Linked DNA regions of Homo sapiens. The protein of the gene in region 4 purifies or fractionates together with the protein of the main gene of each other region. This does not show direct contact. Each region holds a gene or a part of one and is shown on either strand. Other genes may lie near its edges.

Evidence for each region. Proteins that work in one complex are often made in the same cells at the same time.
Region 1: the proteins of ACSL3 (region 4) and POLD3 purify together in Homo sapiens (tandem affinity purification; one large-scale study listed by IntAct). This does not show direct contact.
Region 2: the proteins of ACSL3 (region 4) and SPTLC1 purify together in Homo sapiens (affinity purification with mass spectrometry, with the first as the bait; one large-scale study listed by BioGRID). This does not show direct contact.
Region 3: the proteins of ACSL3 (region 4) and MTHFD1 fractionate together in Homo sapiens (co-fractionation; one large-scale study listed by BioGRID). This does not show direct contact.

Annotation. Positions count from the first base shown.
Region 1 is NC_000011.10:74,616,582-74,620,081, reverse strand, and holds part of POLD3 (DNA polymerase delta subunit 3), read right to left. Parts: intron 1,546-3,500; coding exon 1,278-1,545; intron 66-1,277; coding exon 1-65. UniProt on the Homo sapiens protein: Accessory component of both the DNA polymerase delta complex and the DNA polymerase zeta complex.
Region 2 is NC_000009.12:92,045,914-92,049,413, forward strand, and holds part of SPTLC1 (serine palmitoyltransferase 1), read right to left. Parts: intron 1,796-3,500; coding exon 1,700-1,795; intron 1,356-1,699; coding exon 1,259-1,355; intron 141-1,258; coding exon 86-140; intron 1-85. UniProt on the Homo sapiens protein: Component of the serine palmitoyltransferase multisubunit enzyme (SPT) that catalyzes the initial and rate-limiting step in sphingolipid biosynthesis by condensing L-serine and activated acyl-CoA (most commonly palmitoyl-CoA) to form long-chain bases.
Region 3 is NC_000014.9:64,422,853-64,426,352, reverse strand, and holds part of MTHFD1 (C-1-tetrahydrofolate synthase, cytoplasmic), read right to left. Parts: intron 1,550-3,500; coding exon 1,422-1,549; intron 624-1,421; coding exon 526-623; intron 335-525; coding exon 161-334; intron 1-160. UniProt on the Homo sapiens protein: Trifunctional enzyme that catalyzes the interconversion of three forms of one-carbon-substituted tetrahydrofolate: (6R)-5,10-methylene-5,6,7,8-tetrahydrofolate, 5,10-methenyltetrahydrofolate and (6S)-10-formyltetrahydrofolate.
Region 4 is NC_000002.12:222,859,741-222,863,835, reverse strand, and holds the start of ACSL3 (fatty acid CoA ligase Acsl3), read right to left. Parts: upstream 2,801-4,095; 5' UTR 2,578-2,800; intron 1-2,577. UniProt on the Homo sapiens protein: Acyl-CoA synthetases (ACSL) activates long-chain fatty acids for both synthesis of cellular lipids, and degradation via beta-oxidation.

The sequences.
Region 1 (3,500 bases), on a different chromosome or scaffold from region 4:
GCTTTTCCAAAAAAGTTGCTCATCATATTCCCTTTCCCTGGTGCCTTGTTGCCTGCTGCAGATGCCTACAAGCACAGAAAACACATATGATTTTTTGCTGGCATTTAGGCTGTTCATGAAGTAGCAGTCTCAAACAAACTCTTCTATAGCAAACTGTTGCGATGGTATAGTCTCTATATAATCATGCCAAAACGCGTAGGTGTTAGATATAAGAACAAATCTAGAACAATAATCCACACCAGACAGTAACTGGTGTTAATCTCTAAAGCTTAGTTTCTTATATATCTTATAAAATTAATTATCCATGGATATAGCTAAACTTTTCTTGAGCACATTTAAAAACTATTTAATTTGACAGAATTAAAAAAGATCAGAGGCAGTATGTACACAAAGCGGGAAAACCTAAAACATTACATTTTTAATCATCAGAAGTAGATCTGAATTCCTGGTTCCCACCATTTAGTAGCAATATGGGCTCCAGGCAAATTACTTAAGTCTAGGTTTCAGTTTTACCATATGCGAAAGGGAAATAGTTAATATCTCCCTCACAGAACTGATAAGAGGATTTAAACAAAGACACTGGCACACAGTTGAAATTCAATAAACGTTAGTGTTTTCCTCCATCCTTCTTCTTTCCCAAGACAGACGCTTGAAAATGACAGTGATCTGAATTAAATACACTTGACACTGGAAAATGACAGTGATAATAATAATAGTAACAACAATAATTATGCTTTTCTGGATTTTTAAAATAGTATCTTAATGATACTTTTCTTAAGTCAATGCCCTTGAGTTAGTTCAGATGACTGAACAATAAAAATCTAAGAGAAGCAAATAAGGCAAAAACAAAACAAAAAAACCTGCATAAAGTATAAGAATGGGAAATACACTAGGAAGGAAGGTATATGTTGCAAAGCCCAGAATATAAGATGTTCCTCAGAAAGACATATTGCAAATAAACATTTTTTTGAATGTCAACAATTCTCGAGGTGTTTTCACATGTTTTCATCTGGGTTTCACAACAATCTTGTAATGTGCACAAGGTAGGCATTACCATTTTGCAAAGGAAATCCAAGGTTTGGTGAGAATCATTATCAAAAGCAAAAGAACTCTTTCAGATAACAATATCAAGTATTAAAGGGTTCAAACTAAAGTAGAAAAATCAGAACTGAATATCAGAATCTTATATAAATAAACTACTACCACTGCAACCATTAATGCTTTTCTAGTTACCCACTCTGAGCTGCAATGAAGGGGTATCTTCAAAGAAGACTTACATTTGTTACTTCTTTAGCCTCTGTTTTCGTTTCCTTGTTGGTTTCTTGGGTTTTAGCAGCAGCTTTGGAGGCAAACATTCCCATAATTCCTTTGGGCTGCTGGGAAACCTGCTTGGATGCAGGTGGGCCATGACCATTGGTGGTCAGCTCATTGTTGGCTTGTGTCTCACTTGACATGTGAAGATGTGACTGCTCAAACTTTTTGGAAGACGAAGAGGATTCAGCAGGAGCTCTAGGGACGGCAGCTGCACATTGTATAGCACTAAATCTGGGGACAGAAATGTTACATTAAGTTAATGTCAGCATATGCATTCTTGGGTGGTTCAACAAAAAAAGAAAAAAAAAACTAATGTCAGTATAAAACTTTATTTTCAAACTCTTGCTTCTTCCACACAATACTTAACTCTAATATTGTTTAGAATCGACTTTAGAAAAATGTATGAAACTCTCTATTACATAAAGAAACAAATATTAGAGAGAAGTGAGTCACTTTTACTAGGTTATACATCTAGTTAGTAATAGATAGGATTGGAATTAGGTGCCTTCTACCACTAATTGAATATTCTTGTTTTTGATAAAAGTATTCTAATTCAAAAGAGTAGGAATGCAACCAACAATAATAAAAGATGCAGTAATTTCATTATCCTTGGGAAATGAAATAGCCTTTGTTTTTAAAGACCTTCCTCTGATAGGGCTAGATTTGCAATATTGACTGAATCAAAACTAAGCTTTAAATATTAACAAATTTCCTGGCAACTCTCTTGGCCAGAGTAAATCATGCTGTAGGGTTGGGCGCATTGGCTCACGCTTGTAATCCCAGCGGTTTGGGAACCTGAGGCGGGCGGATCGCTTAAGCCTAGGAATTTAAGATGGGCCTGGGCAACATGGTGAAACCTTGTCTCTACAAAAAATACAAAAATTAGTTGGGTGTAGTGGCGCATGCCTATAGCCCTGATTACTCAGGAGGCTGAGGTAGGAGGATCACCTGAATCCAGGAGGTCAAGGCTGCAGTGAGCCATGAGCTCATCACTCAACTCCAGCCTAGGAACAGAGTGAGATGCTGTCTCAAAATAAATAAATAAATCATGCTTTAAAACAAAGAAGAGGCCAGGTGCAGTGGCTCACGCCTGTAATCCCAGCACTTTGGGAGGCCAAGGCAGGTGGATCATGAGGTCAGGAGTTCAAGACCAGCCTGGCCAACATGGTGAAACCCCGTCTCTACTGAAAATACAAAAATTAGCTGGGCGTGGTGGCACGCGCCTGTAGTCCCAGCTACTCAGGAGGCTGAGGCAAGAGAATTGCTTGAACCCAGGAGGCAGAGGTTGCAGTGAGCCAAGATCACACTACTGCGCTCCAGCCTAGGCGACACAGCAATACTCTGTCTCAAAATGAAAAACAAAAAAAAATGGGAGAAGCTGGAAGCAGAGCCACTGGCTCCTATAACCTATAGTCCTTTACAGCCATTTGTTAATAATTTCTAATAATACTAACAGCACCGGACAAGTAAGTATGCCCAAGGCCAAGAGAAGAAAATTGGTGGAACAGCTTGTGTGGCATATTAAAGGGAACATACATCTCTCTCTAATCATTATAGAAGTGCCGTTTCACACAAATCCATAATGTAACATTCCACATTGTGAATGGGTAATTGATTTAGCCTTCTCAAAGGATTGTACTTAAAGCAAAGTTCCCCAGCTTTTTCTAACAAAGAAAAATATTTTATTTTTCCCAGTCTTGCTTATTGAGCATATGTAAGACCTCCTTGAAGTCTTATTTATCTTTTTTATTTCAGGCACCCAGCTCAAGACCTGGCACATAGAAAAGTGCTGGAAACGACATGTTGAAAGAATGACTAAGTGAATGAAAGTGAGGCTTCTGGCTTCTCTCCCTTCTTTAGTGTATCACCTTCAACTTGGGGTGGGAGATTTCTAAACTATGTGGTGATGGCAATTATCTTAAAAGATCAACCAGGCACAACTTCAAGATTAACTGCTAGAATACCTGGCCTAATGAAAAAAAAAAATCCCTGATACATCATTTCATCTCAGAAGTAACTTTAGACTGGGCAGCCCCAAAGCTAGAGTCAAAAGCTCCAAAAATCTTCCACTGATTTATTATGGTCTTCATCAGAAAACTCTGTATTTACACACATCTTTTATGCATCAGAGTTAAGAACAGACGGAAATCATTTGCTTTCACCCACTGCTCTTCCTCTCTGACCTT
Region 2 (3,500 bases), on a different chromosome or scaffold from region 4:
CAAGCCTAGAAATTTAAAACTTTCCATTAGTTGTTAAGTGTGGTGCAGATAAACTTTATGTTGGTTGAAAATATATAAAACTCACCCTTGTAAAGCTTTATGAATTTGTCCGCACTTTTCCTTCAACACTGCAAAAATACCTAGATGAAAAAAATACGTTTGAGAGTCTATTTGAAACTTATGATAGTACTAACCTAAAAATATTTTTGAAGACCCAGATCAAGTTCATCAATTTAAAATGCTACAAATCCTTCTACATACTAACAGAGCCAAGAACCCATACTCCCCTGAAGGCCCAAGCTTTGTCTCTGGTGCGTGCTAACTGGCCCCTTCTCACCTCAGTATCCCACTTTCAACAAACCTGGAATGATGCTTTCAAGAACAATCAATGCCTCTTGTTCTCATCAAGATCCTAATCTGGCTAAGAATCAAAGGGTACAAATTTATTGCTTATTTCTTTATCCTAAACAATTTGGTAAAAAATCAACTATAGTAAAGTAATTTTTACAATCTTTTCTTGATATTTTCCTTTTTTATTCAAGGAAAATCCCAAAACTAAAGTATCTGATCAGAAGGTAGGCGTGCCAGGCCATCTGAGAAGCAAGCATATGAATGAGCACAGAGACACACATTTTCTGGTTCTCTGAATTAGTATCAGTGATGAAGATTCAGAAATACTGTACCGGGTAGGGCCTGCTGCTCCCTTTCCGTTTTAAGCTTTGCAAAGGTGGCACTGTCATAGCCAAAGGCCACATTTTAAATTCTTAGTAGACTTTTTATTTTTCCCACTGAGTAAGTTCTTTGCTGGTAAACCCGGCTTGGCCTCAGTACCAACTGATGATTCAAAGGCTAAAGGTGAAAACTCACAATATTTATAAAATTGCACAGATAAAAAAGCAGCATGCTTCAGCTGATTTCTCAAAAAACTATTAACCAAATAAAGACTGGCTTATTTACACCAATGGAACGTTTAGGCCCAGAACTGGCTGAGAGCCCCTCGTCCTCCCAGCATCTCCACCCACTATCTGAGCTAGCCTTGCTTTGGCTCTGGCTCTGGCCCCAAGCACAGGAGAAAAGCTCTGACCCCAAGTCCTTGGGGCAGGAATAGCTTCTTCACTGCCATTCTTCCTATGAATGCCATATAATGTAACTGCAAACCAGTTTTGTCTGGCAAATAATTTCTCCAGTAAGTAAATCAGTAACACAACTAACGTAACCTGAAATCTCTTTGATTCCTTGGGTTTTTAAAGGGTTATACCTGGATTCTCTTCCATGATGTTGAGGGCCTCAATTGCTGCAGCAGCTAACAGGGGAGGTAACGAAGCTGAAAAGCAGTATCCCTGGCCGGAAAGTCGCTGAGAAGAAACAAATGAAGACATATACACATTCTCTGTCCTTTCTAGGTAAACATTTGAAAGGCACCAGTTCTCTAGAACAACTACTGAACAGTGTGTACATGTGGTGAGGGGGGTAAGATCCAGCCATAAATAAACATTATACGTGTAACAGCAACAAGACTTTTTGTTAAATGTGAGATCATTTCTAAATAGAAATATTTTGAGTGATTCTTTAAAAATTGACATTTAAATAAAAATTGTGTGATAAACTAAGTAAAATTTCGTATTTCAAAATTATATTTTGAGGTGACCAATGGAGAAATTAGTTTCAGTTTTAGCTCCTGTTTTTAAAAAGAACCCACCTGATGGTCAATTACAAAAGACCTGCCACAGCAGAAACCTCCAATAGAAGCAAGTGCATTCTCCATGTTGGCACTGATAAGATCAATATCATCAATCTGCCGGAAAAGGAGGAGTGACAGTTATTCCACAGTTTAAAGAAAAAAAAGGCCAACTTCAAGCCTAGAGACAAAATTTAACAGCATTAAACTGTCTGTTAATATCTGGATTCAAACTACCTATCTACATGAAAATAAAAAATAAACCATATAACATCTATCGCTGAATGAACTGTAGTCTCATGGCCCATCTGAAACTGTCTCATTTTATACATTTTTACCATTTCATTATACATGACAAATTAACTCACAGCAAAGACAAATAAATTATAAGAAAATAAAACCCAAAGCTGTTCGATATTAAAAGTAGTCACAGGTACAAAATAAGACTATTTCCTCGCTAAAACAGTGGTCTAGCTGGCCTTCCTCATGGGATGCACTGAGATAAATAAAAAGTCTATCGAAGTTTTGAGCACTTTATTCTTGTATTCAGTTTGCCTCTCAGCATTTCATAAGTCAATTTATCCAAACGTCATGGCGATGGAATCTTTGACCAACTGGACAGCAGAAGAACCTAATGTGCTCTAAAATGACCTAATGGGCTTTGAGTCCTACATCTTTCTGACCACTCAGAACTCCTTCGGTCCTCATCTTTGGGTCCAGCCCTCAGCACCAAGTTCCATTCTGGGCACACAGTAGGCATTCAATCATTACTTACTGATGGCCATGTTAATGGATTGTCAGAACACAGCTAGTGTTTTCCTTAGTGTTTCATAGATCCAGCAGAGTTTTGAGAAACTCTGCACTCCTGCCCTTTTTAAAAAGCATGTTTAAACCTTTCATTATGAAAAATTTCAAGCCTGAACAAAGTAGAACAGAACAAAGAATCCCCATCACCCAGATTCAAACATTATCAACTCAAGGACAACCTTGCTTCACCTATATCCCCTACCACCCTCATCATTTCTTTGTAGTGAGTCCCAGACTTCATGGGGTTTCATCTATAAACATTGCACTGTGTATTTCTAAAAGATAAAAACTCTCTCAAAACATAATCACAAAACTAGTATCATACTTAAGACATTAACAATTTTTAAATGTTAAGTTTAAATTTGATGTTAAATATATTCAAATATTCAGTGTTCAGATATCTCTGATTGTCTCACCAAATTTTCTTTTAACAGCATTTGTTTGAATCAGGATCCAAATAAAGCCCGTACATTCTGCTCTCTACTCTCAGGCGCTTGTGAGTATTTCCTCACAGTATTTCCCAAAGTGACAACTGCTGGAAGCATTCACAAAACTACAACAGTGAAGTTCAAGTTTTTTCCTCCATAAAAATTTTCATGCCTTAAAAAAGGCTGTAGTGTACTGCTAAATCTGCTTGAATTACACTTCCATTTATCTTTCCATTTATTCCATTTACCTCCTCGGTGCATGTAACTGCTGAATGTCAGTCTGCCTTGGAGGAGGTGCTTCCATCCAACCTCCCGGGATATTCACTCTGCTTTACATTTTTCTCTGGGACTATATGGTTAGCGGGATGTCGATAATGTAAGGCAATTTTACGTTTTATAGTTCAACTCTGTAACACAGGTTGCACAGCTCTTATGCGCATGTTTTGGAGAAAAAGCTTTCTGTAACTCTTCCCATGGTGGTTGGTAAGACAGCTGTTCAAGACTGGCTGACTTCCTCTGCCCTGAGGCTCCAGGAGCAAAACCCACTAGGCACTGCGGGCAGTCTGGGTCCATTTCCCTCAGAAAAG
Region 3 (3,500 bases), on a different chromosome or scaffold from region 4:
CTCTCAGGATTGCTGTAAGGATCAAATGAGATCAAATACGGGTGAAAATGCTAAAATCAAATTAAAGGCACCTCTACATACATGTGCCAAGTGCAAATGCAACGCCTTAGTATCAGGACTGATACTAAGATTTGGATGGCAACATGAATAAAAAGCATACCCAGTCACCACCACGTATTTCCCATCAGGCCGGTGCTTCAGGCGTTCTAGTGCTGACAGCAGAACTTTGGCCTTTGTTTCACCATATAATTCTACCTCTTCAGACAGCAGACCAATTTCTCGAGCCAGCTTACCAATGGGCTTCGGTTTACAAGATCGTGATATATCAATGTCACTTTGGAAACATAGAAAATAGGTATTAATGTTTATCCACTGAGTTTAATTAATCCCACAGTAGTAACAAGCCCCCAACCCAACCCCAACCACTGAAGGCACCTTCAGAGGGAGCATATGTGAACCCACAGTATCTGTCAACTAAAAACCAACAATTCACAAAGTTTTAAATCAGTAAAACTTTATTTTTACCTTGGAACAGGTGTCTTGAGGTTAAGGTTGTTATACTGAATCATCCACTTTCCTGGCTTAAATTTCTCCAGGAAACGCTTGGCACTCTCTACTGTGCTCTAAGCAAAATGAAATAAATGAAACTTAGAAGAGGTGGTTATTTTAATCCTCACCTCAGTTTCAAGCTCCAGGTCACTCCAGTTCAATCACAAAATGAACTGCTTCAGACCCACTTATTACCATGCTTCAATCCTAGCTAAGAGTCAAGAGGCACCTAACATGCTTTGGGGCTGCTCGCCTGGCCCCTGTCAGCTGGTGCATGTTAGAAAGGGAAAACAGGCCGGGCACGGTGGCTCACACCTCTAATCCCAGCACTTTGGAAGGCCAAGGTGGGCGGATCACCTGAGGTCGGGAGTTCCAGACCAGCCTAACCAACGTGGAGAAACCTGTCTCTACTAAAAATACAAAATTCGCCGGGCGTGGTGGTGCACACCTGTAATCCCAGCTACTCAGGAGGCTGAGGCAGGAGAATCACTTGAATCAGGGAGATGGAGGTTGCGGTAAGCCAAGATCACACCATTGCACTCCAGCCTGGGCAGCAAGAGCAAAACTCCGTCTCAAAAAAAAAAAAAAAAAAAGAAAGGGAAGGCAAACCAAAACAGACCTGGCCAAGCCAGTGTGATCGCACTTTTCTTCTTTCAAAGTTATTATATTCCAAAACAGACTGGAATTATGCCATCCCTACTTTCCTCTATTAATGTGCCTGATCTTATTTCTCTATTCTTCCCTTCCCTTTTTCTCAATAAATTCACATCTTTACTTCTGAGTAGGTTTTTGACATTTCTACTTGGGGAGAAAAGCAGCCAAAACTCGATCAGCTTTTCAGAACTCTTATAGAAACTTTTATTCACAATTACCTGCATGAGCATTGCAACTGTCATGGGCCCTACGCCGCCAGGAACAGGAGTGATGAAGCTCGCCCTCTCTTTGGCCTCGTCGTATGCCACATCACCCACAACTTTTCTCCCATTTGGTTTTTTATCATCTGGTCAAGTGGGGGAGAAATCAAAACTAAGTCTCAGAATCACAGTCCTGGTGATCAGTTACGACAAAAACTCAGCAGAATTGTAGGGTGTGTTAGTCCCATCAGGCTCCAGTGCCTACTTAACTTAAAAGCTATGGAATGACAGATGTTTGCTATTTCTTAGGGAGAAAATTATTTTACCTGCAAAAATTCACAAGATGCATAAGTGGTTTTACAGAACCTGGAGAATCCTTTTGTAGTCTCTCAGGTGGCAAATAAAATACCAACTGTTTTTTATTCTTAAAACCAACTACCCAGTATATAATGAGCACCCATTTTAAAATGTTAATTTGCTAAAGCCTACAAAGGAAATTTTTTGGGTGCACAAAGATCCAACTCTGTCACAGCTGCCAGATATCGTTTCTACAGCAACTGTCAGCATTTTGTGAGCTCCATGTGTGAGCTGGAGGAACAATTCAACATCCAATTCCAAAGACACAGCTACTTAAATGTATGCTAAAGGCAAAGAATATAATTACACTTCCCTTAAAAGGACACAAGAACAACTACAAATCTTACCAGCAAAGAATAGCTATTCAAGAGAACAAAACCCAATGATGCATCATTGCTCACTCACACAAAGAACATCCTACACTTGGCTTCAGTGCACTTCCAGGAGGGGCTGGGGGCGGGCCTAGACCTCGAAGCAATAAGGCTCCCGCGCTGCATCTGGTAGTTTTAGCGACATCACCACTTCTCTCTGATCAGATCGCCACAACTGAGAAGAAGCTCCAAGGTGGAGGCAAGAAGCCAGAATTAAGAGATTAGCAGGCACTTTGGGAGGCCGAGGCGGGCGGATCACCAGATCAGGAGATCAAGACCATCCTGGCTAACACAGTGAAACCCCGTCTCTGCTAAAAATACAAAAAAATTAGCTGGGCATGGTGGCGGGCACCTGTAGTCCCAGCTACTTGGGAGGCTGAGGCAGGAGAATGGCATGAACCCGGGGGGCGGAGCTTGCAGTGAGCGGAGATTGCGTCACTGCACTCCAGCCTGGGCAACAGAGCGAGACTCTGTCTCAGAAAAAAAAGAGATTAGCTGTAGCATCAGCTCTTTTATTAAAAATTAGGGCCAGGTGTGGTGGCTCACACCTGTAATGCCAGCACTTTGGGAGGCCAAGGCGGGTGGATCACCTGAGGTCAGGAGTCCGAGACCAGCCTGGCCAGCATGGTGAAACCCCGTCTCTACTAAAAATATTAAAAAATCAGCTGGGCTTGGTAGCGGGCACCTGTAATCCCAGCTGCTCAGAGGCTGAGGCAGGAGACTCACTTGAACCCGGGAGGCGGAGGCTGCAGTGAGCATTCCACTCCAGCCTGGGCAACAAGAGCGAAACTCCGTCTCAAAAAAAAAAGTTAGTTCTGCAGCTCCTGTGGGCTCCATATTAATCTGAAGTCCAAAATGCAAAGAAGGCTTAACACTACCTATCACAAATTTGCTGAGGGCAAAATGAGAAAATGTGTACATTACTGAAATTGAAAAAGCAGCCTCCAAACGCAAGAGTTTCTCTTTCCACCACAGATACGTAAGATATTTTTTATATGGAGTAAAAGGAGCTGGTCAACACAACTCATTGGGATGGTTTCAAGTTTCTAGAAGATTATAAAGCAGCAAACTGGCAGAACATTTCCTCTTACAGCCCCTAGAGTCATTTCAAAATGCCAAGGAAATATAGATAGAGGTTTGCCCTCTGTACAAGTTTCAATCGTCTTCACACTGTAGTTAGCTTGAAATACCCGCTGCATCTATTTCTACGTGTTAATGTTAGTCATTTTCGTTTTCCCACAGGTAAGAGACACATATCTTTGACTACATGACTAAACGCAGCACTGGTGAGTTCAGTTTTGCTCCTAAACCAAATACTGTCAGGGTTGACGAGACACTGCTAAACATGCAGTGCTTCGTGGATAGGATG
Region 4 (4,095 bases):
TGCAATGTATTATTTGAATTGGCTTCATACATGTTCAACTGAGACATTTATATATTTTTAACAATCTATATTTCCCAATCCAGCCATCAAAAAATGATCTCCTAAGATGATGAGACTTTTAAGTTAAATGACCCTGTGAAGCGTATGCTACAATGGATACTTTTGAGTCATTATGATGCTCGTTGTTTTAAAAGCCTATCACCCTTGGCCTAGCTTTCCTAAAAAAAATCTAAATCCAATATTCAAGCCCAAATCTCACATAAAAGAGTCTTACTCCCCCTTACAGTTCATTTTGAGTGGGAGAAAGTATTAGAGGACTATTTAAGCTTTAAGTACCCTGAAGGCAGACAGAATGACAACTTGTAAAGTTGCCTATCTCATTTTCGTATCTTGCAATGAGAGCCGGGATGACATTCTGAGTATGAAATACACTGTGCAATGAAAAGAATTATTGTTGCTGACAACTTCCCAAACTCTTGCATTATGTACATAATTGCAGGCTCAGATTTCAAGACTGTCCTCTAGCAAAATCTCACCACATCAATTCAAAAAACAGCTCCCTAGACTAGATTTCCATCTACATCACAATCTTGCTCATAATCCTCATTCACACAATACTTTTCCTTCATCGTACCTATCAAACTTGCAACCACCTATCCGTTTGTATGACCATTTGCTTCTTGTCTATTTTTCCCTCTATTCACAGCTGTATTCCCAGCACCTAATAAGGTGCCTGACATATCACAAAAATTAAATGGCTCTAGGTGAGTCAATTAATCAAATGAGGAATGAAACAGTCACTTAACTGGAACCAAACAGCAGGGAAACACAAAAGCAAATGAAACAGACCTCGAGGCTTTAAGATCTGATTCTCACCCCAAACCAGACAGAGGATGATTTTCCCCTTATAATTTGTGCGTTCTTCATTTCTCCCATTCTTCCTTTCTTCCTTCAAGGAGAACATTTTAGACCCTCAGAATATTTAAGCTTTAAGTCACTGAGTCTAAAGCCTTACAAATTCAGTAACTGAGATCCAAAGATACGAGGTGACTTGTCACCTTGACCCTTAGGTCCAATGGACCACTCTGCCCCACACCCAATGTCATCCTACAAAACCAATATTTTTATACAAAAGAGAAACCAGGAAAAGTCTAGAGAGAAAACGCATGCGACAATTAGAAGGCTTACTCATCCCCAAGTGTGAGGAACTGCCCAGAAAAATGCCAGAAAACAAAATCAAGTCTGTGCAAAAGATTCCCATGTCACACCACCTGTCCCCTATAATACCCTTCTAATACACTTTCAGGAGCAACTCATCAGCACCCTTAACTCTCAGAACTAATTTGGGGAAACAAAATAGGTTGATAAACATGAAAGAAGGTATCATCAAACTACAACTCTCCTGGCCACCCAGACTAAAATCCACTGTGGAAACTATTCAGCCAGCCACCAAGGAGAGGCAGCAAAATATAGTGCTTAGATTTCAGAGCTCTGGATTTACACAGGCCTGTCTGAATCCCAGCTTCTTACTAGCTGAGATCTGAGGCAAGCTAAGTCGTCCAATCTGCAGTTTCTCCCGCTGTAAAATGGGAATAACCCCCACCCCAGAGGACTGTTAACAGTGTGAAGACACTGTACATAAAGCTCTCCAAACAGTGCGTGGCATGTAATAAAAGCTCAATAAATGTCAGCTATTTGTCATTCTTTTCAGCTATAATTTCGTTCACAAAGCCTACTGCCTTTCTAGCTTCCATATAATTTTAAAGACATTCCTCCAGCCTTTTCATTTTCGAGGGATCTTTTATACAGCAGCTTAGAGCACACTTTCTAGTATCAGACTTCCTGCGAAAACCATTTGAAAACCTGTGCCTCGGGCTCCTCATCTGTGAAACGAGCCTGATAACACCTACCCCACAGGACTGCTGGTAGTAAGCAGTCCCCGAGTTACCCAACCTATCAACAGTATATGATTAAAACGCACTTGGGGAAAAGCAAAGCTGCAACTCTCAAACCCCAAACGACAGTCTTAATCCCAGTCCCACCACCACGATAGTGCCCAGAACCAATCACCAAGGTCGACCCACCTCACGCACCTAGTTTCTTCTCACCCCACGCAGCAACAGCCCCTCCCGCCCCGCCAAACAAGGGTTTTCCGAAATCGCAGGGCTGAGTCTCCTTCCACGGACACCGCACTGCTGGGGCCGCGGCAGAGCCCTCTTAATTCAAGGGGGTGGCCTCCCCACCCCGCCCCACAGCGCCGGGAGGCACGCAGTGCATCCTCCCTGCCTGGTCAGCGCCGCCCCACGCCGTTCGCGCTGCAGCTCCCGGCTCGCGTGGGCTCAGGGCCGAGGCCCCACGTCAGCCGCTTCCCGGACCCCAGCGGGCCGCCTCCCACCCTGCTCGCCGCTGCTCCTGGTGCCGCGGGCCGCCCGCGCGCACACCCAGCGGTCAGGTGCGGCGCCGACGACAGGGTCCCAGGCCCCGAGGCTGGGGAGCCCCTCGGGCCCAGCCGAACCGCACGCGGAGGCCGCGCCGCCAACCGGCTCCCGCCGCTCCCACAACCGGCGCCGCACTCACCGCTACGCCGGAGTCCGGGTTCCTCCGGCCTCGGGCCCGCGCAGGCCTGGCTGAGCCCCAGAGCGTTCACGCCCCGCGCCGCCGCCCGGGGATCCTGGCGCAGCTGTCGGGGCCGCAATGCGAGGGGACGAACGTATGCGACCCCGTCCAACGCCTCCTCGTCCCGGCCCCGGCCGCGTAGACAACTGCAGTGTCGCAGCCCGGCGCAGCCACAGCAGCGTCTGTTGAGCGGAACCGCCTGGGACGCTCACCCCCGGCCGGCACTCGTTGCCTATGCAGAGAGGCTGCCACCCATTGGCCCGCGAGCGGTGGCGCGTGCGGGGCTGGGCCTATCGAATTCGGGCCGGGGAGCGCGGCGCTGGCGGCCCGGGGCGGGGCGAGGTTACTACGGGTCATTCCGCGGAGCCGCCGCGGACCGGACCTGGCTGCAGTCTGCGCGGGGCGGGGGCGGGAACGGGGTCGACCAGGAGGGACGGACCGCGGGTGGGGGAGGGGAGCGGGGATCTGCGGCAGCGACGTGGGAGGAGCGGCTAGCCCAATAGGGTCTGCAGGAGCTCCGTCCCTCCAGGAAAAAACACCCCTCCACCAAAAAAAAAAAAAAAAAAATTACAGTCGCACAATTATTGCTGTAATGTATAAATTTCAATATAAATTATGAAATAGTATGCATATTCTTTTTCGTTTTTAACTGGATTAGTTATCCCGTTCTTGCAGAAATTGCTGTCAAATCCTGCCAAATAAAATGGCTTTTGGAACTGCCTGGGGCAAGAAGAGCCTCAAAAACTCAAAGCTTATCCATTATCATTTCTCTTGTTTTGGCCTCACTTGACCTAGCATATAACCCGTTTTCCTCTAAATGCACTCACCATGCAAATTTGCTATTTCTTTTCAAAAAATAAAGTTTACTCCAAATTATTGTTTTTGAACGTTCTTAGGAATCCACAGTGGTTCTGTATTTTAAGGAGTTTGCCATTGTTTCTCGTTTTAGACACTAAACAAGGATAAGAAAGAAAGCATCCAGTGCAGGTAGTAGAACTACATGTACTGTAAGAGAGAAGATTTTCACTCACCCAGTACTAGTAGGATTGGTCTCTTTTTTTAACCCAACATATTGTTTAGTTTGCCTGTGAACTTTTCCTTAAGTAGGTGAAAGGTTGCCTTCCTGAGCCAGCCTCAGGCTAAAGCAGGCCTCATTTCCCAAGAGAATCAAAATCAGGAAGCCGCCAGAACTTGAACTAGGTGGAGCGATGATGCACCAAGCAAAGAGAGCTCACTCACCGTGGGCCAAGGGCCAATCGAGAACCTAAAGGGATGGATACCTGACTCAGGCAAACTGTTCTCCCACTTCAAAATATGGCAGTTCAGTTGCTCATTAATCTGTTGAAATCTTATCAAAGGATACATCCTGAAGATAAATGGAATGCAGAATTTCTTATCTGAAAAGACATTCGCAGCTCTGCAGAGAGAAGCAGGCTTTAGAAGTAGTACTTCTAGAACCATGAAATCCTCTGGAAAATA